7 separate regions of the Homo sapiens genome follow, and regions 1, 2, 3, 4, 5 and 7 are each linked to region 6. The links come from fine-mapping of genetic effects on gene expression. A gene starts in region 6. Each other region holds a variant in brackets. All regions are shown on one strand. Distances are between the middles of the regions.

Evidence for each region.
Region 1: its variant is fine-mapped to the expression of AMPD3 in whole blood (INTERVAL, PIP above 0.99).
Region 2: its variant is fine-mapped to the expression of AMPD3 in monocytes (Quach 2016, PIP 0.95).
Region 3: its variant is fine-mapped to the expression of AMPD3 in atrial appendage (GTEx, PIP above 0.99).
Region 4: its variant is fine-mapped to the expression of AMPD3 in whole blood (TOPMed, PIP above 0.99). The same link has a PIP of 0.9 or more in prefrontal cortex.
Region 5: its variant is fine-mapped to the expression of AMPD3 in cerebellar hemisphere (GTEx, PIP above 0.99).
Region 7: its variant is fine-mapped to the expression of AMPD3 in lymphoblastoid cells (TwinsUK, PIP 0.95).

What each region holds. Positions count from the first base shown.
Region 1 is chr11:10,504,683-10,508,748 of GRCh38, reverse strand. It overlaps AMPD3 (adenosine monophosphate deaminase 3), which reads right to left. Exons shown (of 15, transcript NM_001025389.2): 15 at 1,170-3,041. The coding sequence ends at 2,865. MIR4485 (microRNA 4485) reads left to right here and starts at 423; the gene lies at 423-479. It also overlaps the pseudogene MTRNR2L8. The variant T/C (reference allele first, on the strand shown) is at 1,795.
Region 2 is chr11:9,681,309-9,685,374 of GRCh38, reverse strand. All of the region lies in intron 1 of SWAP70 (switching B cell complex subunit SWAP70), which reads right to left. Among named protein-coding and RNA genes, the nearest start is that of SWAP70, 19 kb to the right of the region's middle. The variant C/T (reference allele first, on the strand shown) is at 2,247.
Region 3 is chr11:10,415,788-10,419,853 of GRCh38, reverse strand. The region is part of intron 3 of CAND1.11 (a long non-coding RNA gene); the gene reads right to left. Among named protein-coding and RNA genes, the nearest start is that of AMPD3, 37 kb to the left of the region's middle. RefSeq lists a silencer at 3,580-3,793. The variant A/G (reference allele first, on the strand shown) is at 1,857.
Region 4 is chr11:10,494,990-10,499,055 of GRCh38, reverse strand. It overlaps AMPD3 (adenosine monophosphate deaminase 3), which reads right to left. Exons shown (of 15, transcript NM_001025389.2): 8 at 4,026-4,066; 9 at 3,323-3,486; 10 at 2,118-2,244. Among named protein-coding and RNA genes, the nearest start is that of MIR4485, 11 kb to the left of the region's middle. The variant A/G (reference allele first, on the strand shown) is at 2,314.
Region 5 is chr11:11,045,285-11,049,350 of GRCh38, reverse strand. No RefSeq gene overlaps it. Among named protein-coding and RNA genes, the nearest start is that of LINC02752, 68 kb to the left of the region's middle. The variant T/C (reference allele first, on the strand shown) is at 1,966.
Region 6 is chr11:10,453,680-10,457,745 of GRCh38, reverse strand. AMPD3 (adenosine monophosphate deaminase 3) reads right to left here and starts at 2,482. Exons shown (of 15, transcript NM_001025389.2): 1 at 2,298-2,482. RefSeq lists an enhancer at 1,558-1,607.
Region 7 is chr11:10,614,528-10,618,593 of GRCh38, reverse strand. All of the region lies in intron 10 of IRAG1 (inositol 1,4,5-triphosphate receptor associated 1), which reads left to right. Among named protein-coding and RNA genes, the nearest start is that of LYVE1, 48 kb to the right of the region's middle. RefSeq lists a silencer at 876-1,076. The variant TG/G (reference allele first, on the strand shown) is at 2,303.

The sequences.
Region 1 (4,066 bases), 51 kb before region 6:
CAGCTCTTTGGACACTAGGAAAAAACCTTGTAAAGAGAGTAAAAAATTTAATACCCACAGTAGGCCTAAAAGCAGCCACCAATTAAGAAAGCGTTCAAGCTCGACACCTGTCATCTAAAAAATCCCAAACACATAACTGAACTCCTTGCACCCAATTGGACCAATCTATTACCCTATAGAAGAGCTAATGTTAGTATAAGTAACATGAAAACATTCTCCTCCGCATAAGCCTACATCAGACCAAAATATTAAACTGACAATTAACAGCCCAATATCTATAACCAACCAACAAGCCATTATTACCCCCACTGTTAACCCAACACAGGCATGCCCACAAGGAAAGGTTAAAAAAAGTAAAAGGAACTCGGCAAATCTTACCCCGCCTGTTTACCAAAAACATCACCTCTAGCATTCTCAGTATTAGAGGCACCGCCTGCCCAGTGACATGCGTTTAACGGCCGCGGTACCCTAACTGTGCAAAGGTAGCATAATCACTTGTTCCTTAAATAGGGACTTGTATGAATGGCTCCACGAGGGTTCAGCTGTCTCTTACTTTCAACCAGTGAAATTGACCTGCCCGTGAAGAGGCGGGCATAGTATAACAAGACGAGAAGACCCTATGGAGCTTTAATTCATTAACGCAAACAACACTTAACAAGTCCACAGGCCCTAAACTATCAAACCTGCGTGAAAAATTTCGGTTGGGGCGACCTCGGAGCACAATCCGACCTCCGAGCAACACATGCCGAGACTTCACCAGTCAAAGCGAATTACCACGTTTAATTGATCCAATAACTTGACCAACGGAACAAGTTACCCTAGGGATAACAGCGCAATCCTATTCTAGAGTCCATATCAACAAGGTGTTAGCTGGACAGACTAAAATAATACCCCGGGAAAAGGAAAGGAACATGTATAGCTTTGCTCATGAACTATAACAGGGTAGAAGTTAGAGAAAATAACAAAGGAAGATTTATCTTCTGGGTCTGGTGAGCTTCAGTTTGAAAATTTTGAGTTTTCCTAGTGAATGTCATTCATGTCGGAGTCTTAGTAAAAGATAAATTAGCTATTATTATTGATAGCTTTTCATGGTGCCCAATCTTAAGAGTAAAAATCTTTAACATTTGCTTTAAATATGATTATCTTTAAATAGTTTTAAACTATTGAGCCACAGTCCTAGCTGACTTTATTTAACAATTTAAAAAAAGATACTTGATACAGATAAAATGACAATGAGAAACTACACAATACTTCCTATGTTAGGGCAAATGTATATAAACGGGGGCTTTTCAAAACTAATCCCTAAGATAACAATGGATTTTCATTCAATTTCATAATTAGCTGTAAGATAGCATATATATCTGCCTAGTAAAAAGACTGCATTTATACTTCCATATGCTGAATTGACCAGTGGAGGGGACAGGCATTATAAAGTCACAAGATGAGACAATCTAAAGTCAAATAAGTTCACAGGCAGAAACTGGATTCTTCTTCTAACTATAATGATTCAAAAAGACCTCCTGTAGTCTGAATTTGACCACAGAAATAGATAGGAAGGTCCTTGAGCAGCCTCTTAAGTACTAAGAGCACATGTCCTTAAAAAGTTGCCAAAAGAAATTCACTTAGTTATTCAATATGCATTTATTGAGCACCTACTACATACCAGGCACTAGTAACACAGATAAAGAGTACACTGATAAAGCTTAATTCAGATTAATCTTTAAAAATGCTTTCTACTTGGCCCCTGGGACCATTGTATCTTCTGAAGTCATCATAGTAGATAAGGGAGAAATT[T/C]TGCCTTAAAAAAATGCATCCGGTTACAGTGATTAAAAACACACACACACACACACACAACTAACATTTGTGGGGTCTAATGGAATAGTGGGGAAAAGACAGGATTTGGAATAAGGAAATCCAGTTTAGGCCTATTACTTATTAGCTGTGTGCCCTTAAGTTAAATTTCACTTATCTGGCCTAACTCTTAATTGGTAAAGTGATAATTGGCCTACAGTTGTAGCATATTAGAGCCAAAAGGAACAGAGATCATCTAGTCCTGTGCTTTTTGAAGTTCTTCGTTCAAATGAAAATATTATGTAGCAGCCCCAGTGTAAAACTGATGAACGCAGTCACTTTGACAGCCCCTGAGCATCACTCACTCCCTTCCCTCCCCTACCCTAAAGTATTCATGAGGAGATTCACAGAACACCCTGAAAGCCACTCATCTAGTCCAAACCCTCACTTTCTAGGTGAAGAAACCAAGACTCAGAATAGGAGTGGCTGTTTTCATGAGTACATTTGGCTTCCAACTAGAAAGAGGGAAGGAGGGCTAAATAAAACGGTTTAAGAAATTCACTAAAAACACAATTTGTCAAGAAGGAAGTCTTCCATCTTAACTCCTTCAAAGTAGCCCCTTTATGAAATGGAGCTTTGAAATTGATTGTGTTTAAGGCAGCCAGCCATCCAGAGGCTGAAATGAACAACTACCAATTAGCCTACCTGGGCCAATGGAGAAAAGTATGGCAGAAAACCACATGTTACTTGGCATCTGACCAGGGAAAATCCTGGCCCCAACAGTTCAGGCACTGGCAGTTTCAAGAGAAATACTTGGAAAATTAGGAACAAGTATAGACAAGTGCTCAGCTCCCAGATCCCCAAGGAGAAGTCACCATCTTGTTACTCAGAAATACTAACAAGTGAGCATGTTAACTCTTAAAGTGAGCAGTGCAACCAAAATCACCAGTTTAAAATTTCTTCAGAGGCATCCTCTTCACAGAGGAAAGTCCTAGTTCGGAATCTTGACCACTATTAGCCACAGCAGACTTGAAATTGAACCAAAAAGTTAAAATGCATGTCAAATGCTGGACCTAGTTGGTCAAGGCGGTGATCTCTTCTGATTTCATAGCATCAGACAGGAAGCTGAGCTCATTGCATAAGGTCTCATATCGGAATGCCATCCGGATCTGAGCCACATTTGTCTTTCGAATATCATTTCCTTCAGGTCCTTCTTTATAATAATTTTGTCCCAGAAACTTTTGCTTTTCCTGTGGACCAAGAGAAATACAAATGAAACTATATACTTTTGATTCACTTTCTATAGCCATGTGGGCAGCTTTGACATCAGTCACAGCAAGTCAGACTAGTCCCCCTGAAGCAGATCTTTGGTCAGGACATCTTATCCCCACAGAACTCTTAAAATTCCTGCTGGCCTCTGTGTCCTCAAGGATGTCACCCTGACAACCTCAGTCATCCTCAGACAGCCCTTCATTCCTGGCTGTGCTTTCCTTGATCAGAGAGGAAAGATAAGGTCTGCAGCAGCTGCTGGGGATGGGAAAGGCAAAGGGGAAGGAGGTAAGACTCTAATTAAGAAGCCCCTGAGAGCTGACAAGGACAATGTTCCTGGGGAGGGCCAATCCAAGGCACCACACTGCGCATGAAAAGAATCTTAAGCCTTTAACTCTGCTGCATCATCATCCGACGAGCACAGCCCCTAATGCAACCTCTTCCCAACCAGTGACATCACCCAGGGAGGTGTCGGGGGACCTAACGTACATCAGAACATGGGTCTCAGTGCCAGCTCCTCATCAGGCTTTTTAAAAAATGACAGATGTCTGAGTCCCATAGTCTAGATTTTTATTCAGTCTAGATACTGTTCATCTATTCAAGAAATATTGAGCGCCTGCTATGTGCCAGGGACTATCTAGGGCCCGGGGATATAATTCTGAACAAACCTCTGCCCTCACAGAGCTTACATGCTAGAGGGAAAGACAGAAAAACACATAACTAAACATCAGCAGGAATAAATGGTATGGAGAAAAACTGATTAAGGGGATAGAGAATAATAGCAAGTGTGTGGCTATTTTAGAATGGGCGATCAGGGAAGGCCTCTCCAAGGAGGCGTAGAGGTCTGAGAAGGGTGAGGAAGCAGCCATGAAAACACAGGAGGCTGCCGCGTCTTCTCTCCCTGTGCCTGAGTGTCTCAGAGGCCCTGCCTGCTATGTTCATCACAGATCCCCAGTGCCTGGAAGGCTCCTGGCACACAGCAGGCAGCCTTCCCAGGAGGGACACA
Region 2 (4,066 bases), 770 kb after region 6:
GTCTGTGGTATTTTGCTGCAGTATCAGGACTAGGTGAAACAAGGCTCCTGCTAGAAAGCACCAGTAAAATTAGAAAATGAAAAGATCATTGTAGAACTATAAAGTTGATAAAATTAACTCCTCTGAGCCACCCACAAAGCATGCTTTCCCATACCTCTTTAAAAAGCCACCCTATGGAGGTTGTGGCAGGCCGAGATGGTGCTACTGCACTCCAGCCTCGGCACAGAGCGAGACTCCATCTCAAAAAAAAAAAAAAAGAAAGTCACCCTAATGGACAACAAAGTCCCCCAATTTGGGACAGCCTCCTGAGAGTCCAGCCCCCCAGTGAAATATTGCACAAATGTCTTTTAAGAAGGTAAATGATTTGTGAGGAGATTTAACTCCAGCAAGCTTCTTTATCTTTCTCACTACTCTGTAAGTTCCTTAAAGAGAGAGTCTGTATTTTAGCCATCTGTGCAATACGTATTTTAGCCATCTGTGAATACCAAAACCTAATGAAGTACCTAATGAGAGAGCTGTTCAACAAATGTTTGCTAAATTAGTCCCATTTAAGAATTTCCAAGAATTTTTTTCTTTTTTTAAATTTCATTTTGCTACTTTACCATCTTCATCTAGATCTGGGTCTTTGCATTTATTTTACTATACTACCATGTTTCTAGAAGAATTTTTAATTGGAATCTCTAGTTCAGATCACTTTCAGAGTGAAAAACAATGCCTCCATTAGTTCTTAACACCACCAGAACTAGCCAAGCACAACTCGTCTGGCCTGAGATCTAGTAGAGAAGTCCAGTTTCTTAAAATTCAAGTACAGACTTCTGAGAAAAGGACACAATAAGAATTAACAAGCAGGTGTGAGAGAAGGCTCTATAACAGAAGAGGGGGCTCTGAGCTCCTTGACTATCACCTCCTTAGAAGTTTAATTTAGTACACTCATCTCCAAGAGAAAATGTGAAGTCACAGTGTGCATTCAAAGTGGTGACAAAGACCACAAATCTGGCTGGACGCAGTGGCTCATGCCCATAATCTCAACACTGGGAGGCTGAGGCAGGAGGATCACTTGAGGTCAGGAGTTTGGGACCAGCCCGGGCAACATAACAAGACCCTGTCTCTATGAAAAATATAAAAATTAGCAAGGCATGGTGGCGCACACCTGCAATCCCAACTGCTCAGCAGGCTGAGGTGGGAGGACCACTTGAGCCTAGGAGTTCAAGGTTGCAGTGAGCCATAACAGCACCACTGCACTCCAGCCTGGGTGACAGTGTAAGACCCTGTCTCAAAAAGAAAAATTTTTTAATTTAAGAAAGATCACAAATCTGAAGTCATTAAAATATACAGAAATCAAAAATATATAAAATAAAATTAAAAATAAAAGAATGAAAAAAAATCACAAATGTGAGGTTTCCCTCGGCTGCCCCACCTTCTCACCAACCTGACCCCGCATGGTCCCTAAAATATGACTTCTATCCCTATCAATCTCTTGAAATTGCTTTTCTAAATGGATTCTGAGGTAGACACAGAGATGCACCACTCAGATGCCCCCTCAAGTAGGTAACTGCTACCCAGCTACAAGGACTGTGTTAAGCTGATAGCCTCCAGCTACTTTCAGGGTCCCAGTGACAGAGCGGGGTGGTAGGATCACTTTTCCTCAATGTGGGAGTCCCATAAGGGGCAATCTTTGCTTCAGAGCTCCTGGTTTTGCCAAATCCATATGATGGTTTGACAGTTCCTTTTCCCAATTTCATTTCCTCTCTCCCACCCCACAGGTAACACTTTTGTATTCCTAACAGTGTCTTAACATTGGCTTCCTGGAGAACCCATGCTGGGACAGATACCTTCTGGCCAAGTCACTCTCCCAAAGGTCTGGCAGTTGGCAGTCTGAATCACCCCCTCCTCTTAGACGTTTTTGGTCCCTGACATACCATTTTCTTTTCTTTTCTTTTCTTTTTCTTCTTTTTTTTTGAGACAGGGTCTTGCTCTGTTACTCAGGCTGGAGTGCAGTAGCTCGATCTGGGCTCACCACAGGCTCGACCTCCTGGGCTCAAGCAATTCTCCCACCTCAGCCACCATCCCCCACCCCTCACCCCCAGCAGCTGGGACTACAGGCACCTGCCATCACACCCAGCTAATTTTTCTATTTTTTGTAGAAACAGGTTTCACCATGTTGTCCAGGCTGGTCTCAAACTCCTGAGCTCAAGCCATCCACCTGCCTCAGCCTCACAAGTGCTGGAATTACAGGCATGCGCCAG[C/T]GTACCCAGCCCAGACAGAATAGTTTCTAAGTTCTTCAAAGGTAAATTTATGCAGTCACATCCATCATCCCTCATTCTCCCAATCTGGTCATTTCCCAAAGATCAATTTTCAACCCTCAGTTCTACTTTAATTTCTTCTTAGAAAGTGCTTTTGACCAGGCACAGTGGCTCACACCTATAATCCCAGCACTTTAGGAGGCCAAGGCAGGTGATCACTTCAGGCCAGGAGTTTGAGACCAGCCTGCCAACATGGCAAAAACCCTGTATCTACTAAAAACATAAAAATTAGCTGGGCGTGGTGGCACATGCCTGTAATCCCAGCTACTTGGGAGGCTGAGGCATGAGAATCACTTGAACCCGGGAGGCGGAGGTTGCAGTGCGCACAGATTGTGTCACTGCACTCCTGCGTGGGCAACAGACGAAGACCCTGTCTCAAAAAAAAATAAAAATAAAAATAAAGACAAGACATTCTGTGTTTATGAATCAAAAGACTTAAATTTTTTCAAATTTTATATTTTATAAATCTAAACATTTATAAAAAGAAAAAAGAAAGTGATTTTATTCTGACAACCTTAAGTCATCTCTATTCAAATGATTCATAGATCTCTTTCTGGTCTTAACCTCTCCAGTAAGCTCTGGTTTATATCACTAAACAATACTAGAGATTTCTATTCTAAATCTGCCTCACGTCCAAAAGATCCAAATGAGATCTCATCACTTTTCTCCCCAAAATAGGTTTGCCACCCTGATTCTGACTTTGGTATCACCATTGCCTTAACAAAACTATGGTCTCTTCTTCTATCTCTTTTTCATACAGTTTGTCCACCTTCTGGATCTAATTCAGCCCCAGCCAATGCCAACTCCTGTCTCTACTGCGTGAGCCGCTCTGTCACCTTCAGGCTAACCAAGCAGAGAGTGTGAGGCTGGGGAAACAAGGGCTCCTCCCCTCACCTCCCAGTACAAGGTCCCATTCTCCCCTCTCAGGTCCTGTCAAAGAGTTGCTGCAGAACAACTACTCCTCAGGATATAACCATGGTAAACACATCAAGCTACAAGGTTCAGTTAGAAGGCTAAACCTCAAAGAGCATGTCTGCCACCCTACATTTTACAAATGAGGAAACTGAAGCCCAGCAAAGAGAAGTGATTTCCCATTACCACACAAGTAATGGAGTACAGGTAACTCTCCTTACTCCCCAACTCCTCTCTCTCTCAACACTTTTCATGTTCCTCTAAAGGTTTTACTTTCTGAATCTTTCATCATAGTATTCTCACAGGGGAATTTCATACATCCTTTTCAAGTTAGTGACAAATGTCTCCTCCTCTAGGAAGCATTCTCTGAGCTAACTCCTCATGTCCTCACCCCAAGCTAAATAGGTTCCCTTCCTCTGCATTCTGCCTTCTGTATCTCACTGTATTTGAATTGCCAGTTTGCTCATCTGTATCACTCACAAGATTTTAAGCTCTACAAGGGGAGGGTACATATCTGTTTTAATTTCCATAGCTACCACTACTGACCCACACTCACCAACTTACCCAGACTTCATAGCACCCCACTAACAAGTCCCCCAATCTCCAGCCTCTCACCTTTAGTCATTAAACCTACATCATCAGAATAATTTTAAAACCGTATCTCTGCCATATATCTACCTAAAAACTTTAAATGACTTACCCTCTTTACAGGGTCAATTCTGAACTAATTCTAAGACAGACTGTCAGTCAATAAACATATATTAGCCATATATTCTGTGCAAAAACATTCAATGACATCTAAAATGTAGCCCCATCTCTCTTTAAATCCTAATTCTCCACTATGCTTTAAA
Region 3 (4,066 bases), 38 kb after region 6:
ACCATTTTAATCAAACTGGAAAAAATTGCTATTAAATGCATAATTTCTTTATTAAAAGAAAGAGGAATCATGAAATGAAATATACAGAAGCATGCTGAAGTTCATCTGTTGAATTTGGAAGTGTGAATAGTGACAATACTGAGAAAAATACAGACTCTAATCTGCAAACTGAAACTTCATTTGAGCCTCATTTCAAAAAGAAAAACTTAAGTGCAAGACGCTATTATGATTACTTAAAATATGGCTTTATCAAATGTGAAAAGCCCACTGAAAATGACAGACCTCAGTGTGTTATTTGTAATAATATTCTTGCAAATGAAAGCTTAAAACCTAAATTAAAAAGGCACTTAGAAATTCAGCATGCTGAACTTATTGATAAGCCTCTTGAATATTTTCGAAGAAAGAAAGAAGACATAAAATGATCAACACAATTTCTTAGTTGTTCTACTACTGTTAGTGAGAGAGCCGTATCATCATATTTAGTTGCATATCATGTGGCAAAAAGAACATAGCTAACACAGCTGCTGAAAAAATTATTCTTCCAGCATGTTTGGATACAATGCATATGATTTTTGATGAGAAATTAGCTGATAAATTAAAAACTATATCTAATGATAACACAATTATCTCTTTGGATTTGTAGTATTGCAGAACGTTTAGAAACAATGCTTATTACTCCATAACAGTCTGGTATAGATTTTGCAAAGCAGTGTGATGAAAGCACTGATGATATTGGCAGCTGCACAAGACATTCAGTTTATGTCCGATATGCGTGGAAAGATGATTTTATGGAGGGTCTTTTGTGTTTTTTAAGTTTAACCTCATACCCAAGTAGATTAGATATGTTTACAGGATTAGAAAGGCACAGAGTTGGTCAATATAAATTAAACTGGAAAAACTGTAAAGGAATTGCAGGTGACGTCACAGCAAAAGTAACTGGAAAACACAGCAGAGTCATTAAAAAATTACTAGAAGTGACTAATAGTTGTACTGTGTGGAATCATTGTTTTATACATCATGAAGGTTTAGCATCCAGAGAAATTCCACAGTATCTCATGGAAGTACTGAAAAATGCAGTGAAGTTGTCAGTTTTATTAAAGGAAACTCACTGAATAACCAGCTTCTTGAAACGTTTTGTTCAGAGATTGGAACTAACCATACCCACTTTCTGTGTCATACCAAAGTTCGTTGGTTGTCTCAAGGGAAAATACTAAGCAGGGTTTATGAGCTCAGGAATCAGATTGACTTTTTTTCTCATTGAAAAAAATCTCATTTGGCAAATATTTTTGAAGATGACATTTGGATAAAAAAATTGGCATATTTAACTGGTATTTTTGGTATTCTTAATAAACTGAATTTAAAACCACGGGGGAAAAACAGTGATGTATTCCAACATGTCAGACATATCCAGGGATTTCGAAAGACATTATTGTTATGGCAAGCAAGACTTACAAGTAACTGTCCTAGCTACTACGTTTCCAAGATTTTTGCAACATATTGAAGAGAATATTATTAATGGAAACATTTTGAAAGAAATAAAATTAGAGACATTGTTGAATCTCACTTCTCTATCTCAAATTTTTAACCATTTCTTTCCAGAAGAAAAATTTGAAACATTCAGGGAAAATAGTTGGGTAAAAGATCCGCTTGCGGCAAGGTGCCCTGGCTCACGCCTGTAATCCCAGCACTGTGGGAGGCTGAGGCGGGCAGATCACGAGCTCAGGAGATCAAGACCATCCTGGCCAACATGGTGAAACCCCGTCTCTACTAAAAATACAAAAATTAGCTGGGTGTAGTGGTGTGCGCCTCTAGTCCCAGCTACTTGGAAGGCTGAGGCAGGTGAATCACTTGAACCT[A/G]GGAGGCAGAGGTTGCAGTGAGCCGAGATCGTGCCACTGCAGTCCAGCCTGGCGACCGTCTCAAAAAAAAAAAAAAACAATCAGTTTGCTTTTTGAAACCCAGAATCAATAACTGGGCTTAGTTAATAACTGGTGCCTGAAGAAGAGAATGAATTATCTTAGTTTAGTTCTTCATATACATTGAAGAATGATTATGAGACCTTAAATTTATCAGCATTTTGAATTAAGGTAAAGGAAGACTTTCCTTTGTTAAGTAGAAAGAGTGTCCTACTATTACTACCATTCACAACAACTAGTTTGTGTGAACTAGGGTTTTCTATCTTAACTCAGTTAAAAGCAACAGAAAGGAATGGATCAAATGGTGCAGCAGCTATGTGGGTAGCATTATCTTCCTGTGTTCCAGACTGGAATGAACTTATGAACAGGCAAGCACACCCATCATAATAAATAAAATCTTATCTAGGTTTTGGTTTTGTATTTCTTATTTTGTAGTATTTTTCTATGTTATATTTAAATGGGAATATAACATTATATGTGATACTTTTGTTATGTTTTAATTTTTGTTGTATCTGATAAAATTATTTTATGTTTGCTTAAAAAAAGAAAGTATGGAAATGAGATAATACATGTGAATATACTAAAGTGCTCTGTTGACTGTAAATCATTGAACAAATGTAGTAACTATTACATTTATTTCTAAAAGGGTGCTCTCTGGAGGGTAATGGAGGTATGTGGTCAAGAAATAGTTAAAAGTCAAAACCCTAAGTGGCTACAGATGTTTAATGGTAGACCAGAAGGATGGGGAATCAATGACTTTTGGCAGTAAGGAGCCCTTTGTAGGTCAGCATCCACCCCTGCTGACCAGCCTGCTCCCATGATGTGGCCCAGCATGAGGCACAGCTGAGGAGAAGCCAATCCTGGGCACAGCTGGAGGCAGGCAGAGACCCTCACAGGTGTCTAGGCCATGCTCCTCAACTGGACAAGGCTGGTAGAAGCCACCTAGGGGGATCTGGGCCAAGGAAGAGCTTTAGAAACAAGGCTGGAAAGAGAGTTTTTATTCAGGTTGCCATAGGTGGAATAGAGCCAGCAGCACGGACCAAATGTCAGGTGCAAAAGACAAGGTGAAGCCAAACATGGAACAATGGCAGGTCAGGAACTGGCAGGATTAGGAACAAGCCAGAACACAGTGTGTGGAGCTGTCAGGTGATGTTCAGGTCCAAAGCTATCAAGCAAAGGATATTGAGACCCATGTTAGTGTCATGCTGGCTTTGTGACCCAAAGACAGTCCCTAGTATCTTAAGGAACCCATGCAGAGCCAAACATACTGGATAAAAATAAACTTCCTCAAAAACATGACTACTGGGCCGGGAGCAGTGGCTCACGCCTATAATCCCAGCAACTCAGGAGGCTAAGATGGCGGGATTGCTTGAGTCCAGGAGTTTGAGACCAGCCTGAGCAACATAGCAAGATGTCTATAAAATATTAAAAATCACCTGGGTCTGGTGGCACACACCTGTAGTCCTAGCTACTTGGGAGGCTGACGCGGGAAGATCACTTGACCCAGGGAGGTTGAAGCTGCAGTGAGCCATGATCACCACACTACTGCATCTGGCCTGGGTAACAGAACAAGACCCCATCTCTTAAAAAAAAAAACAGCTATTGAAAATTTTCTCCTTTATTGTGAGCTTTCAGCACCTGCTGATGGAGAGACTGAGAATTCCCCACTATTGATATTAAGACCCATTTTTTTTTTGAGACAGAGTCTCCCTCTGTCTTGCCCAGGCTGAAGTGCAGTGGCACCTCGGCTCACGGCAGCCTCTGCCTCCCGGGTTCAAGCGATTCTCCTGTCTCAGCTGGGATTACAGGTATGTGCCACCACACTTGGCTAATTTTGTATTTTTAGTAGAGATGAGGTTTCACCATGTTGGCCAGGCTTCTCTCGAACTCTTGACCTCAGGAGTCCTTGGCCTCCGAAGTGCTGGGATTACAGGCGTGAGCCACTGCACCTGGCCAAGACTCATTTTAAGCAAGCAAATCATTTCAATGCAGACAGTATGGCATGCAGACAGCTTGAGATGCAGAAGAAGACTTAGAAGCAAAACCAGACAATAAATGAAGAGGATGCTGACAGAATCAGGACAGAGATAATCTCCTGGACACATCTGGCTACAGCTGTCACAGTCCCCTAGAGAAGAGGGACTGGCATCAAT
Region 4 (4,066 bases), 41 kb before region 6:
GCTCTCCAATCCCCACTGGGAGCTGCCCTCTGAGATGGGCCTGAGTAGCCTCAGGAAACCCCCACCCTTCCACTGCAGTTCTACCTTGGCTGGGACCCCTGGGGGGCTGCTCCTGAGTCACTGGAGCCTTCTGGCTGATCCCAGGGGTCATCCCCAACCAAGAACACATGCATGGAGGGTACGGGCTCTCAGCGCACAGGGGAGGCTTGCTACCAGGCCACGGCAGTGCTTTGCAAAGGGGCCTCTGAATAGCAGATGGGAGAAAGAGACTGTCCCCCTTAATCCACAACTGGCCCAAACTGGAGGGCTCCCAGCCCACGCCCCAGACCCCAGCCAGGTCTGCTGGCCTCTCCTGTTCCTATGGGGGCAGCAAAGGCCCAGAGGAGCAAGGCAGCTTGGCCAGAATCTTCCGTGTCACAGAGCCCTGTGTGTCAAAGGAAATGACAGGGTCCCTGCTATGACCCTAAGCACTCCCTAGACGGGTTTGGGGGGCCAGGGAGGACCTTGAGCTCTGCTCTGTGCTCACTAGCTCCATACTTCACCCGAACTTTCTGGGGCCTGGCATGCGGATAATTTCAGCCCCTCTTCAGAGCTCTATCCAGCTGAAGCAGGGCCTCACCACTGCATCTCCCACAGCCTCGGGTGCAAAATGCGTTGTCTCCTCCTCCTGCTCTTCCTCCTCCTCCCCATACCTGCTCTTCCTCCATTGCTGGCAGCAACCTTCGGACAGCACATCATCCATGCTCCTGCAAAGCCAGGCACCTGGGAGGCATCCTAGACTCCCCCCAGTGCCTCCTTCAGTCTCTGTCCAGGTCCTGCCAGGTGTACGCCCACCGCTTCTCACCAAGCCCCACACTTTGTGCAGAGTCCCTGCGCTGCCACACCTCAGAGACGCAAGCTGGTAGCTGCTGTGCACCTTACTATTCTCACTTGGGAGGCAACATAGAATAGGGGTTCAGGGTACATCGCTGGAGTCAGCCTGCCTGGAAACGCATTCCAGCTCTGCCACTTTTAGCTTTATGATCTGTTTTAATTTCCTTGTGTGTCAATTGAAGCTAGCAGCTTCACAGGGCTTTGGTGAGGATTAAATGAGATAATCCAGGGAGAGCACTCAACACCGTGTCCAACACGCACCAAGCACATAATAATTCCGCTTACTGTTAACAACAAAATGGTGATAGTAACGGGGTAATTGTGAGGCTTAGGTGAGATCACGTTGTGGCGTCTGACCAGGCCAGGCAGAAGCACGCACGAGTGTGAGCTATTTCCGCTGGGTCAAGCTCCCCTCCTGTCTCCAGGCAGGCCCCTGACTCTCACCCCTGCCCCCACCTCCAGCTACCTTCTCTTCTGGGCCAACTCCACACAACAGCCAGAATATGTTTGTCTAAAACATAAATTTGATGATGTCCCTCAGCTTGTCCAGTCACTTTCTGGGCACACAGACTCAATTCTTTCCCCGTGCCCCAGCCCTCGGGCTCCCCGCTGTGCCTCTCCCTGTAGAAAGTCATCCATCACCAGGCACTGGCCTGTATCACCATCTGATACCCCCTCGATCCCAGGCATCCGGAGGGTGGGACCGGCTCCCGCCCCCTCCGCCTCCCTCCCTGGTTAAGCCTCTCCCAGACTGCTCCTCTCCTTCTCCTACAACTGGATCCGGAAGGGAAATACACTTTAGGGGCTTGTACTTAATCACACATGGTGTGAGGGCCTCTGTTGCGAGGTAAAGCAGGTGAATTGAAGTGTTTGCATTTCCGAAAAAAAAACCTGAGGCTGCTGCTTGGTGCTGCCGGGGGCTAGATCCAGCCTTTCCAGCCCCACCTGGCAGGAACCGAGTTCCCAGTCTTTGCCCACTGTTGCCTTCCCTGCTGGGGGAAAGGCCTACCCCAAGACCACCACCCCCATCCCCCCACACCCACTGACTCCCAGAGCTGCCCCTGAGGAGAAGGGGACTTTTTAGAAATCTAGCTTCTTGGGGCTGGTGACCCCACGCCTGGAACACAGGTGGCAGGACCTAAGATACCATCGTGAAGGGCAGGAGCAAGCCTGACCCAGCTCACAGCGAATCCATTCCTGCCTCTGCCGCTATGAGCCCTGCCTAGGGCACCACCCACACTTACATATTTAAGGAAGAGGTGAAGCTCTCGATGATCTTGGGGGTTGATAGTGGCCTTGAAAAGGGGCAGGAAGATGTTCTCCAGCATCTTCCCAAAGTTTGGCAGCAGCTTCTTTGACCTAAATATGTCACTGGGGGACAGCAAAGACTCGCTTGTCAGGTGGATCCAACAGCCTGCTGCCCTGTCAGAGACCAGCCCC[A/G]GTCACTTCCTCAGGCACCCTGTGTCCCCATCAAACACCCAGAATCAAGTCAGATGGGACCAGAAAACAGATCCCTCCTCTGTCCTCCTCTCCCAGCAATGTCTGCAATATTCTGCCTTGGTTTGCAAGCTCCACACCTACCCATGCCCATCAGAGCACTTTCTCAAGCCAGAAGCCACTAGGAATGGGATGGTGGCATTCTGGCTGACCAAGAGACTGAGATATGAATCCTCAAATTCCCAGTGACCCAAACATTCTGTTACTCAGCTCTGTTTCCCTAAACCACATACCCCAGCCCATCCTGGAGCCATGGGCTCCACCCTGGCCAGCCGCCTGGAGAGGACAGCAGCCGTCTGAGTGACATCCAGGGAGAGGCCAGCAATGTAGACCACTACAGCTCTCCCCATACCCTGGGGCTCACCAAAAGGACAATCCATCCTCAACCCACAATGAGAAGAAGGCGGGGGTAGTAGTTCCCCCAAGGCCTTTGCACATCTATATTTTTCAAAGATCAAGAGTTCTAGTGTCAGCTGGATGCAGTGGCTCACACCTGTAATCCCAGCATTTTGGGAGGCTGAGGCAGGTGGATCACGAGGTCAGGAGTTCAAGACCAGCCTGGCCAAGATGGTGAAACCCCATCTCTACTAAAAATATAAAAATTGGCCAGACGTGGTGGCGGGTGCCTGTAATCCCAGCTACTCGGGAGGCTGAGGCAAAGAATTGCTTGAATCAGGGAGGTGGAGGTTGCAGTGAGCCAAGATCATGCCACTGCACTCAGAGCCTGGGTGACAGAGTGAGACTCTGTCTCAAAAAAAAAAAAAAAAAAGAGCTCTAGTGTCATGCAGACATCTTTTTCATCACTCCTTCTATGGAAAAATCCCTGGAAAGGACAAGCGTAAGCTGGCACCAGAACAGGCCCTACCCCTCAGGAGTGCAGACTCAGCAGCCCATGAGGGACAGATTGTCACCTCTGTAGGGCACAGGGTAGACAGCGGGCCACCTCACTTACTAAATCCGGGGCACCTGGATGATCCAGCGCATGTTGGGAGAGTAGACCTTGTGCTGGATGAACCAGTAGGCCAGGTTGGGCCACTCCTCAGGACTGCGGCCGTAGATGGAGAGCCGTGGCTCTGAGTACTGGTACTTGCTCTCCTCCAGCTCCCGGGCAACCTCCTGGCACAAGAAGAGCTTGGGTCAGCCCCAGTGCATCCCAGCTACATGGGAGACTCTCACTCTCCGTCACCAGCAGGGTCCTGTTGCTCCCCCAGCCACCTTGCTCCCAGGCTGGAAGCACTCATCTAAATCCCCAGGGCTGCCTGCTCCTGTAAGCTCTTGTTCCACTTTAGGAGAGGCCCCCTCTGGTGAGGAAGGCCTTGGGTCTGCAGAACCAGGCCACAGCAGAAGCATCTCCACACGGAGCTCATCTGCACCCAGCTAGGTTCAGGCTGCAGAGACACGAAAGCCAGGCCAGGTGCTGTGAGCTTGGCCAAGGTGGATACCCTTCCCTCCTCTTTCCTGCAGTTGGCACATGCAGCACTGCCTGGAGCAGGCAGCCAGACCACAGCACTGGGCACCTGGGCACCTCACCCTTCCCTGAGCTGATGGTACACAGAGGGAGGGGAAGGGGCCAGGGGCACACAGGGCCCCCACTCTCTGAAGGCAGATGTTGGGAGGCACCTGAGAGGCCTCAGAGAGACTGAGGGTTCACTCACCTTGACCATCCGAGCAAAGTACTCTCCTCCCAGATAGTTTT
Region 5 (4,066 bases), 590 kb before region 6:
CTGAAGTCTCATGTGTTACACAAAAATTAACTCAAAGGGGAGGAAGCAAGCAAGTCTGATGTGACTGCTTAGAGCAGCAGATCTCCCATCCCAATCCTTTTCCAGTGCCCACCAGAAGGTCACTAGGTCCTGGGTAGCATAAGACAGTGCACCTCCTGGTTACCTGGCTTTGTCCCAAAAGCCAGATGCAAGGTGAGGCCTCGGTTCCTTGGGTCAGCTTTTGAGGATGTGCAGAGTAGCAGAACACCTCTGGATTATCCATTTCTCTGCTGTCCAACTGAGGCAAGATGCAGAACAAAGCCCCTCCTCCAAGGACTAAATGTTGTAGAGGTGATCTGATCCTACACAGGTATCGTCTAATTCTATTTTTCAATCCCATTAAGTCCTCCAGCAATCCCTTAGTACCAGATTCTCTGAGGCACCTAATATTTTCCCCAGCTGTGCATGCTCCTGGCATATTTCATCAAAAGTGAGCCTGATGTGGGCCTCAACCTGGAGGTCAAAGGAGTCCACCATTACAGGTCATGGCTCCTAGAAATTGTTCCCAAGAGAAAGTCTACTGACCTTTGGTGACCTTGGATCCAAGTCAGAACACCCCCAGATTGTTGTGGGCAGTTTGGGGTGCTGTAACTTGAGTTGAAGATCAGCAGGCAGCTGTGTGTCCAGGAAGTCCCAGAACCCAGAAAAAGGTGAAAGAACCGCAGCTTCCTAACCTGGAGATAAGACTTGGTGCACAGTTTTTCTCTTCAGAAATCTGAGGGCTGCCATGGAGAAAGGGAATTGTGTTCTGTATGGCTCCCTGAGTGACAGATGGGACAGCCTAAAAGAAGACACAGATAATTTTTTTTCCCTAGAACTTCACAGTCATGAAATGGGCTGCCTGGAACAAGAGCAAGATCTGGAAGTCAGTGGAGATGTTACAGCTGATGGCTTTTGGAAGGAATGTTGTGGGGCTGGAATCTTAGAGAATTTACAGACTTTCACAACAGGGGTCAAACTAGAATAGAAAATTCTATGGATCCTTCCAGCACTAAATCTATGACTCCAAGAGGCCGGACCAGGGATGAGGCCTATTAGGAAGCCAGAATCCATGCTGCAGGTAAGGGTCTTCACCCACTGACCCTAACAAACCTGAGGGTCCACCCTAGAGAAATCCTAGAATCAGATCCTTACTTCCCCAGACCCAGATACCATTTTAAGAACTGCTGAAAGGGGAGGAAACCTCATCTGAGGAGAGCCCAGGCTGCTCTGCTACCAGGACACAGGCAGCTGGGTAGCTCTGAAGGGTCTTGAGTGAAAGGCCTCTATCAATCAGCCAGGTGCCATTAGAGCAAAGCCCTCTGGAGCTCCACGCAGCATCTCAACAGACCAGCTAAAACCAGTGGCTACTAAAGCCAGCTCAGATGACCCAAGCCCAGCCTGAACCACACTGGCCTGAGCAGAGACCACCTTGTACACACCCTTGCAAAAGACATATGCTGACTTGCTGCCCAGCCTCCTAACCCTGCCATCCAGCTGGTCATTGCCTTAAACCACAAGTTGGCAAAATTTTTCTTTAAAGACCCTGAAAGTAAGTATTTTGGACTTCGTGGGCCATATAGTCTCTGCTATAACTGCACAAAAGCACAGAGACATCATGTAAATGAATGCACGTGACTGTGTTCCAATAAAACTTTAGGTACAAAAACAGGGGTGGGCCAGATGGGACCAGCAGGCCATAGTTTGTCAACCCCTGATCCAAACTCATGACCACATTAGCCTGACAGGCTGGATTCTCCTGGACTCTGAGTTACCTCCATCACAGAGCCCTTCTCCTCTGTGCCTGGCCAATTTTCCTGCCTCTTTGGGGACTTCTGGCTCATTTGGGGCTGACAAAGACCAGAGAGCCCACCCCTGGATATCTCCAACCTCCTGATTCCTGCCATGCTACTCCTTGCCTCTTGCTGTATTCTCCAAGACACCCAG[T/C]GTCTTGCAGTTGTCCAAAGCTTCCCTCCACTCCTCTACCCATGCTGTTGCCCTGCCTGGACTGCCCTTCCCAACCCTCTTCACCAGCTGCCTCTCCCACCTTTAAGAAGCAGCTCAGCCATCTGACCTTCCAGGAGGCCTTCCTTGTACCACCTTCCCTCACTCTGCATCCCAGGCTGAGCCTAAGGCCCCCTCTTCTCCATTCTCATAATATTCTCTGCTTTCCCTGTTGTTTGAACATTGTCCATTGGTTGGCCTGCCTCTCTAATTAGGTTACGGATTCCTGGAGAACAAGAACAGTGCCTCACTCATCTATGTGTCCCTAGAACCCATCACAGGACTCAGCATAGATTCTCGGAAACAATTCGCCCAGTGGTGAATGTGTATCTCCTCATCTGCCCACATACCACCCTGGATCTTTGTGCAATCATTTCTCCACAACTGACTTCTGTTTCCACCCCTACCCCATCTGCATTTGTAATGCTTTCATTTAGCAGTCTCCTTAGAGGTCGGAGTCATGTGCATGCTTCTTCCTCCTTCTTCTCTGGACTTCAGGAGAGCTCCATCCCTCTGCCACCTCAGCTTCCCCACAGAGGTAAGCATTTCTTTAACAGATATAAATCAAAAATAAAATTTAAAGGCCCCCAACCATCTGAATGGGCTTCCTTCTCAGCCAGGGCTCTTAAATTTTAACCTGAAAGGCTGGTTCAGGCCATGAACGAAAGTGGGGGTCTGACATGCCTCATCATGCCTCTCTGGCACTAACGTCAACACAGACTTTAAGTCTGATAAGAAACATTGTACAACCTATTCTCGCTGAAGGCTTCTAGCTAAAAGCTTCATCTGCATGGTAAAATTTTGGTCTCCACAACCTCTTATCCCAACCCACACATTCCTTTCTATTGATCCCAGGCCTTTAGACAAATTCAACCAATTGTCAACTAGAAAATGTTTGAATTTACTTATAGCCTGGAAGCCTCCACTTTGAGTTGTCCCACCCTTCTGAACCAAACAAACGTATTTCTTAAATGTATTTGATTGATGTCTCATGCCTCCCTAAAATGTATTAAAAAAAAAAAAACAAGCTGCACCCCAACCACCTTGGGCACATGTTCCCAGGATCTCCTGAGGGCTGTGTCACAGGCAATGTGACATACTTGGCCTGGAATAAATCTATTGAAATATTTCACAGAGTTTGACTCTTTTCATCGACACAGAGATAATGAAGGGCTTGAAGTATTTCATCCCTGGGAATAAAGAAGAACTTTTCAAACCTGGGAGCATCATTACCACTAGAAGACACTCTGCTGGCTGCTAATCAAAAGAGCCCATGGATGCCAAGAGGCTGGCAGTGTAAGAAGAAGGAAAACTCAAACCTAGATCCCAGCTACAGAAAGCATAGTATTTGGGTGGGAAGTAGAAATGGTGAATTATAGCCAGGGAGAAAGCCAAAGATCCTGTTTTCTCCAGCCCCTCCTGGCTCTCAGCTCTCAAGCAAAACAGCTACACAGTCAGCTCTGGCCAGTCCTTGAGATTTCCCTGAGCAGGATGGGAAGAAGGCTGGGAGTCTCAGCCCCATTAGCAGGTGGGACCCAAGAGAACTCGGGACCACTGTGTTCTCACAGACTCGTTGGCTCCCCTGAGCTCTATCATGTTAATCTAGGTCATATGACTGGGCTTCTGCCTCTGTTTCCTGCCTAGCATGTCAATTATCTGCCGGAACTGGCTGTGCCCTGAGCCTCGGTCTCCGAGGCTGCAGCATGGCTCCTGGCCTAGCTCTTGCCATCATTTTCTCTGGGTTCCAGGATATGCCTCCTGTGCTCTGCTGTTACCACCCACTTGACACAGATGCAATGCCAACACACAAGAGGGGCTCATTAAAGGGCCATTCTGATCCTCTCCGGGCTCCCTGCTTTCCTGAGATGCCTGCTGCCCCTCCCCATAGGCCCCTGCACCAGATGATGCCAGCCTGCACCAGGCTTATTTCATTGGGGTACCTGGCAGCCACCACAGGAACTGGTCCAGTAACCCTGCCAAGCTCCAGTCTGATCAGTCCTGGCACCTCTCCTGCCCACAGGCCTGGTCCTGCTGTACCTCCACA
Region 6 (4,066 bases):
TTTTTGTATTTTTAGTAGAGATGGGGTTTCACCATGTTGGCCAGGCTGGTCTTGAACTCCTGGTCTCAAGTGATCCGCCTGCCTTGGCCTCCCAGGGTCTAGGATTATAGGTGTGAGCCATCATACCAGCGCACAAAGCATTTTTAGCTTGCTCTAATCAACTAAAAATACTTTTCAGGACACAGCTTTCTATAACATATCTTCCTTTCTCTTTAGCTTAAATCAACCTTTCCCAAACTGGATGCCATAAGAAATTGATACCTGTTGCTGGTAAAACAGGTCCTGTGGTCAGTTATTGGGAGATGTTGCATTCCACAGCCCCTCAACTCACATTCATAAGGCTCATTAAAATCAAGGATCATAGAGTAACATTAACATACAGAACCCTTTTTGTTTTACAGAACCCATAAAAATCTTCCGCAGAACTACTACCAGTGTCTTAAATAGTTGGTAGATAATTCATTCCAAGACCGGGTGCAGTGGCTCATGCCTATAATCCAAGCAATTTGGGAGGCTGAAGAGGATCGCTTGAGGCCAGGAGTTCGAGATCAGCCTGGTGCAATATGTCAGAACCTCATCTCTACAAAAAATAGAAAAAAAAACAGCCAGGTGTGGTGGCATGCACCTGTGGTCTCAGCTATTTGGAAGGCTGAGTTGGGAGAATTGCTCGAGTCCTGGAGGTGCAGGCTGCAGTGAGCCATGATGGCACCACCGTACTCCAGCCTGGGTGACAGAGCAAGACCTTCTCTCAAAAAAAAAAAAAAAAAAGCAAGAAACAACAGCAACCACAACAAAATAATTAATTCCATATCTTAGTATGGACCAAGTAACCCACTTGGGGTGCTGCAGGCCTTAGCAGCTGCCCCCACATCTGCTGCCTTCTGGATGTCCTTGGCAGACAGCTCCCACCTGCCAACCCGTCCCTCCAGAGTGTCTCTCCTCTCAGACCCTCCAGACACCTGCCAGGCCAGGCCTGACAAGGAAAGCTCACTCTGCAGATGCCAAGCAGAGCTTCAGCTCCAGCTGCATGTTCACGCCTGGCTTCCAACCCTTTGTCAGCTGAAGCCAGCAGGCTTGGGAGGCTTAGCTGTGAATTCACCAGCATCAGTCAGCCAATGATACAGCTTATCTCACTGTTACATGCAACACGCTCTGATGAACTTGAAGAAGTGTCCCAAAGTTAGAAAGTTCTAAAACACTGCCAGTTTCAACAAACAGTAACTTTTCATGGTGCCACAGTCCCTCCAGAAAGGAAGCCCAGTGCCACTGAAATCCCCTCGTTATACGAAGGAAGCTGGTTCCTACTCTTGCCAGACTCCCCTTGCAGAAGCCCCGACACAGACCTGAGCCTGGCTCCATGACTGGTCCTGAAGATGCCACTCAAGTGATGCACCCGGGTGAGGTGCTGCCTGCCACCCAGGAGGCTCAGCTGAGTCAGTGCGTGCGTGCAGCTGGCTGGGTCCTGTCTGCCGGCTGGAGTAGGAGGTCTCTGTTTTGCATATCTGTGAGCAGCAGTGAGCCAGAGCAGGAAAAGCCTGGGCTGGAAATTCTCTCGTGAATATGAAATATGAGTGGAAAATTTCCAAGAGCCCTGAAGTCCCCAGGTAATCCCAGTTATCCAAAACAAAATGGCTGTGGTATCCTGAATGCAGTGTCCTGGCCCTCTTCACAGCCCTCACAAGAGGAAACTAAAGCGGCGGCTTCCTCTTTACAACAGTAAACTCAGCCGTCCTGCCCAGCTGCAGGAGATAAGCCACAGCCTCCCTCTAACGCCCAGCCTCCTCCTGAAAGCTGAGTAGCAACGAGCGATATCATCACCTTTGCTGCTTCCGTTCTGAACGTGCTTCAGGCCTGGCTGCATTTTATCAAGGGGATTGGTCTCAGGTACAGCCCGACCTGCCTCTTCTCAGAAAGCCCCCCTAAAGCAGCCCTCCCAAGGGCACCCCATAACTGCCAGGGGGAGCTTCAATCCCAGTTGCTAATACAATCCCCTCCATCCCCTCCTCCTCTGAAAGGGAAAGACCATGAACTGCTTCCACCTTTCCCAGGAAAGGACAGAGACTCAGGGAGCAGGAACTGCCTCAGCACAGAGGCGGACAGAGGACAGGGGCAGGCTAGGATGAAAAGCTGACAGCCCCATCCCACTCCTTCCTTTCTTCCCAGAAGGAAGCCCACATCACAGGTGACTGCGAAGCCTGATAAGCTTTACCAGAACCCCCACCCCCATCCACACACACAGAAAAGGAGTACACCCCAACTGACCCACCGGAGCCCACCCCAAACCCTCCCCTGCTTACAGCCGCTCACTGCTCCCACGTGGGCCTCCAGCTCCGAGCGCTGGCTGGACTCTGCCACTCCTCCTGGGGAAGGTGGAGCCTGCCTCAAGTGACCCACAGGAGCAATCCTCTAAAACCAAGCAGGGTTGATTAAAATGGCATCACAGGGTGCAAAGCTCTGATCTTCATCTGCCCTTTAGGAGAGTGGGAAGGCTCAGAACAGACACATAGCCTCCCAGTGACTTAGGCAAATCCTGTGGTCCTGGGAAATAACCATGAGCAAAATGGCTATTTCTGTGGTGCTGTTGAAATCCTGGGGAGAAGAGCTCAGGAAGGATGGGTCAGTTGTTTACCGGGAGGCTAGCTGTAACCCTGACTTGGGCCTGAGTCACCTCCGCATGTCCAATCGTGAGGTTGTGTCTTACTGAGCTCACATCATAATTCCTGTGTGCACAGAGCAGTATTACAGGGTTGACACATGATCCTCGGGCTGCTGCTGGGCTTTAGCTACCCAGAGATTACGGCCCACCTGTCCTCACAGCTGTTTCATAAACAGTGCAACCAGCAGGCTACAAGCAACCTAGAGGGAGGGTAATATTTATTCATTAAACAATTAAATGAACTTACAGTATGAGAAAAAAATCCAAGCCCTTAGTACTATTCTGCCAGAAGGAGGAGGGGCAGATGACTTTTTCTGCTAGTGTTTTGGGGAAAGGGGAGGTAGAGTGGGGACTGCAGTGGGAGGATTCCAGCCCAAGGATTTAAGTCCGACACGTTCAGGGAATTTTATTCTGCACCTTTAACCGGATCCCAGCTAGCCTTAGTCTAAACAAGCATTTTTCAAAGTGCAGTCTGCAGAACATGAAAGGTCAGAAGGCTTGGAAAACACTGCATCCTGTAGTCCCTTATGGGTATTCATGCACAGTTTCTACTAGCAAATTCAACACCTGAGAAGTCCTGCAGTAAAGAAAGCTGCTTAACTTTGTTTAACCCGACGCACTTATTTGACCATCCTAGAACTGCTGTCATAGGAAAAAAACACCTATTAATATCTTGTGGTATCGGCTTTGGGAAACACCCTCCACCTTGAGTCTTCATTTTCCAACTTAGAGAAAGCTGCCTTCCTGGAGCCCAGTTTACAGGTATGAGACCCATTGCATCGGGTTCAGACAGAAACCAGCAGCAGCTCCACTAAGATGACACAGGTTGTAACAATGACCAAGGGTCCTGCTGAAGCCAAAAGGCGGGAAGACTCCCCAGAACATGGGCAGTTTAGAAGAAAAATACAGTTCTGTCCCAGAAGAGCAAGCTCTTCTCAGGACCTCACAATTCCACCTTGAGCCTAACTTGTTGCTGCTTCTTGCAGCCAAGATGTCTCTGTGGACTGAAGAGCACTGATCCCAAGCTCAAAGCCTTATTTCCCTTTCGAACAAACATCAAGACAATTTATGATAACCAGATACAGGGCCCGCTTCTCCTGCCCGAGACTAGACTGCATCCCCTTTTATCACTTAAGCACCCCTTACAAACTCTAAAAGACAGGAGAGGACGGAATCAAATTATGTCTCATCAAGAAAGATATCGGCCGGGCATGGTGGCTCATGCCTGTAATCCCAGCACTTTGGGAGCCCGAGGCAGGTGGATCACAAGGTCAGGAGATTGAGACCATCCTAGCCAACGTGGTGAAACCCCATCTCTACTAAAACACAAAAAATTAGCTGGGCATGGTGGTGCGCACCTGTAGTCCCACCTACTTGAGAGGCTGAGGCAGGGGAATCACTTGAACCCAG
Region 7 (4,066 bases), 160 kb before region 6:
CTTCGGATCCCTTCTCCTTTGTAAAATCTCTCAGTGTGAAATTGTTTGGATGTTTCTCTGATTAATCTCTGTTCCCCTGAATAATGAGCTCCAGAGGATGTGGCATGTCAGTTTTGCTTAGCATTGTATCCTTAGCTCCCAGCTCATTGCCAGGGACATAGTAAACACTCAATAAACATTAAACAAATGTATGAACGAATAAGCTCACTGTCTAGGAGAGGAAACATAAGAATAGACAAAGTCACTACGATAAATTGTGATAAAACTTTAACAGGCCATAAAGTACCTGGGAACAAAGAGGAAGAAGCAGCTAGCTCAGTGGGGTTGAGTCAGGGAAGGTTTTCAGGAGGAGCCACCTTGAGCTGGGGAAGAGAAAGTCATCCCAAGCAGGGGGACAGCAGAAGCAAAAGCATGTAGGCATCTTCTAGTGCTTGGCATACTTCAGGAACAGAAGGAATGTCATGTGAACTAAGTGTGAGCTACACGTCCCAGAGAGATGGGCAACAAGGTGGGAACAGTGGGCTGAGACCAAGGAAATTGAAGGCTTTGAAGGCCAATTAATGAGTTTGAATTTCATTTAGGACACTTTGGAAAGAGAAGCCTGCAGGTAAGGAAGCATCAGGATCAAATCTATATTTTAGAATAATTCTTCTGGACAGATTGTGAGAGCTGGCCTGAAACAGCAGAGGCTAGAGACAGGGAGACACCAGGTAAAAGGATAGGGAAATAGCCTGGTGAGAGGTAATGAGGTGGTAGTAAATGTGGACAGGATAGTTTGACAGCTATTGGAGATCAGCTTGTCAGGACTTGATGAGGAGATGGAGTTGAGAGGCAGACCAGGAATACCACCAGGCACCTGTCTGCATGGTTGTGAGGGTGATGAATTGTGAGACAGGAGGAGGAGTTTGCTTGAGAAGGAAGACAGTGAATTTGAGTTTGGACATGTCAAATGCCCACGGAAAGCAGCTTGAATGCAACAGACAAACCTGGTTTTGCATTCTGGCTGTACTGCTGATAAGCTGGACCCTAGTAAATCACTTTAACTCAGCTGAGCTTCAGTTTCTCCAGAAAATGCATTTCATAATACATTCTTTGTACTTTCAGAAACCAATTTCTCTTCTTTGGAGGAAGCAATTACCAAAATTCAGCAGGTCCTACAGTTTCACTTCACTTCAAGTTCAATTAAACTCTAATACTTTTAATTTCAAAAAAGTATATCTAGTATAATCTCCCTCTTTTTCCCTTGCTCCTTCTGTATTTGTGGGGAAGGAGGTGTTTAAGCTATTTTTTATTTGCAGTACTATTGTAAGAAATGACAAAGTGTATCTACTGCATAGTTGATGTTCAGTAAATGGTGGCTCTTGAAATGATTTTTATTCTCCTTAACCAGGTGGCAACGTCTAGAAGGTAGTTGGCTATCTGGACCTGGATTTTGAGGGACACGTAGGCTGAGGCAGAGAAGTACATCGAATGGACAGTCCTTCCAAAACCCCCAGTCTAGACTCAGAGCCTCAGGTCTTGGGCAGGAAAGAGGCCTCCCTGAGAAGAAAGAGGTAAAAAAAAGTTTATCCCCAACTAGCAGCTTTGACTTTTAGGAACCATCCTGGGACTCAGAGCATCTTTCAGAGCTCCAAAAGTAATTTTTCCAAGTCCCTGACATGGTCAGAAACAAATATTTTCATTGGAATGAGCTAGTCCTGGGAGATATATTTGAAAATAAATTTATTACTTTTTGTTGAAAGTGGCTTATGTTCATATCTAAAAATTCAACCAATAGTGAAAAATACAAGGAAGAAAGTAAAAATAGCTTACACTAAACACCTCCTTCCCCACTAATACAGAAGGAGGAAGGGAAAAAGAGGGAGATTATACTAGATATACTTGTTTGAAATTAAAACTATTAGAATTTAATTGAACTTGAAGTGAAACTATAAGACTTGCTGAATTTTGGTAACTGCTTCCTCCAAAGAAGAGAAATTGGTTTCTAAAAGTATAAAAAATGTATTATGAAATGCATAAAGGGTTTGGAGTTACTGAGGTAGTTTTTTGTTTTTTGTTTTTTGTTTTTTGTTTTTGCTTTGGTATGAGTTTTAATTCAATTTTTATAAATAATCATGTCCATAGTACAAAATTCAAAAAGTACAAAATGAGACATAGGAAAAAGTAAGTCTCATTACATCTCTGTCCCCCAGTAGCAGAGGCAACCACTGTCACTATGTTTTAGTGTAACTTCTAGATATATTCCAAGCATTTCTAAATATAGACATATATGTAAAAGTGGATTTTTCTTTTTTTTTTTTTT[TG/G]AGATGGAGTCTCACTGTCACCCAGGCTGGAGTGCAGTGGTGCCATCTCAGCTCACTGCAAGCTCCACCTCCCGGATTCACGCCGCTCTCCTTCCTCGGCCGGGACTACAGGCGCTCGCCACCACGCCGGGCTAATTTTTTGTATTTTTAGTAGAGCTAGGGTTTCACCACGTTAGCCAGGATGGTCTCGATGTCCTGACCTCGTGATCCGCCCGCCTCGGCCTCCCAAAGGGCTGAGATTACAGGCGAGAGCCACCGCGCCCAGCCAAAAGTGGATTTTTTAAACATAAATCGTAGTATATTATACAAGGTGTTCCAAACCTTGCTTTTTTCACTTAGTAATATACTTTTTTTTATTATTATACTTTAAGTTCTAAGGTACATGTGCACAACGTGCAAGTTTGTTACATATGTATACATGTGCCATGTTGGTGTGCTGCACCCATTAACTCGTCATTTACATTAGGTATATCTGCTAATGCTATCCCTCCCCCATCCCCCGGACCCCACCACAGGCCCCGGTGTGTGATGTTCCCCTTCCTGTGTCCAAGTGTTCTCATTGTTCAATTCCCGCCTATGAGTGAGAACATGCGGTGTTTGGTTTTTTGTCCCTGCGATAGTTTGCTGAGAATGATGGTTTCCAGCTTCATCCATGTCCCTACAAAGGACATGAACTCATCCTTTTTTATGGGTGCATAGTATTCCATGGTGTATATGTGCCACATTTTCTTAATCCAGTCTATCATTGATGGACATTTGGGTTGGTTCCAAGTCTTTGCTATTGTGAATAGTGCTGCAATAAACATACGTGTGCATGTGTCTTTATAACAGCATGATTTATAATCCTTTGGGTATATATCCAGTAATGGGATGGCTGGGTCAAATGGTATTTCTACTTCTAGATCCTTGAGGAATCGCCACACTGTCTTCCACAATGGTTGAACCAGTTCATAGTCCCACCAACAGTGTAAAAGTGTTCCTATTTCTCCATATCCTCTCCAGCACCTGTTGTTTCCTGACTTTTTAATGATCGCCATTCTAACTGGGGTGAGATGGTATCTCATTGTGGTTTTGATTTGCATTTCTCTGATGGCCAGTGATAATGAGCATTTTTCCATGTGTCTGTTGGCTGCATAAATGTCTTCTTTTGAGAAGTGTCTGTTCATATCCTTTGCCCACTTTTTGATGGGGTTGTTTTTTTCCTGTAAATTTGTTTGAGTTCTTTGTAGATTCTGGATATTAGCCCTTTGTCAGATGAGTAGATTGCAAAAATTTTCTCCTGTTCTGTAGGTTGCCTGTTCACTCTGATGGTAGTTTCTTTTGCTGTGCAGAAGCTCTTTAATTAGATCCCATTTGTCAATTTTGGCTTTTGTTGCCATTGCTTTTGGTGTTTTAGACATGAAGTCCTTGCCCATGCCTATGTCCTGAATGGTATTGCCTAGGTTTTCTTCTAGGGTTTTTAGGTTTTAGGTCTAACATTGAAGTCCTTAATTGATCTTGAATTAATTTTTGTATAAGGTGTAAGGAAGGAATCCAGTTTCAGCTTTCTACATATGGCTAGCCAGTTTTCCCAGCACCATTTATTAAATAGGACTCCTTTCCCCATTTCTTGTTTTTGTCAGGTTTGTCAAAGATCAGATGGTTGTAGATGTGTGGTATTATTTCTGAGGGCTTTGTTCTGTTCCATTGGTCTATATCTCTGTTTTGGTACCAGTACCATGCTGTTTTGGTTACTGTAGCCTTGTAGTATAGTTTGAAGTCAG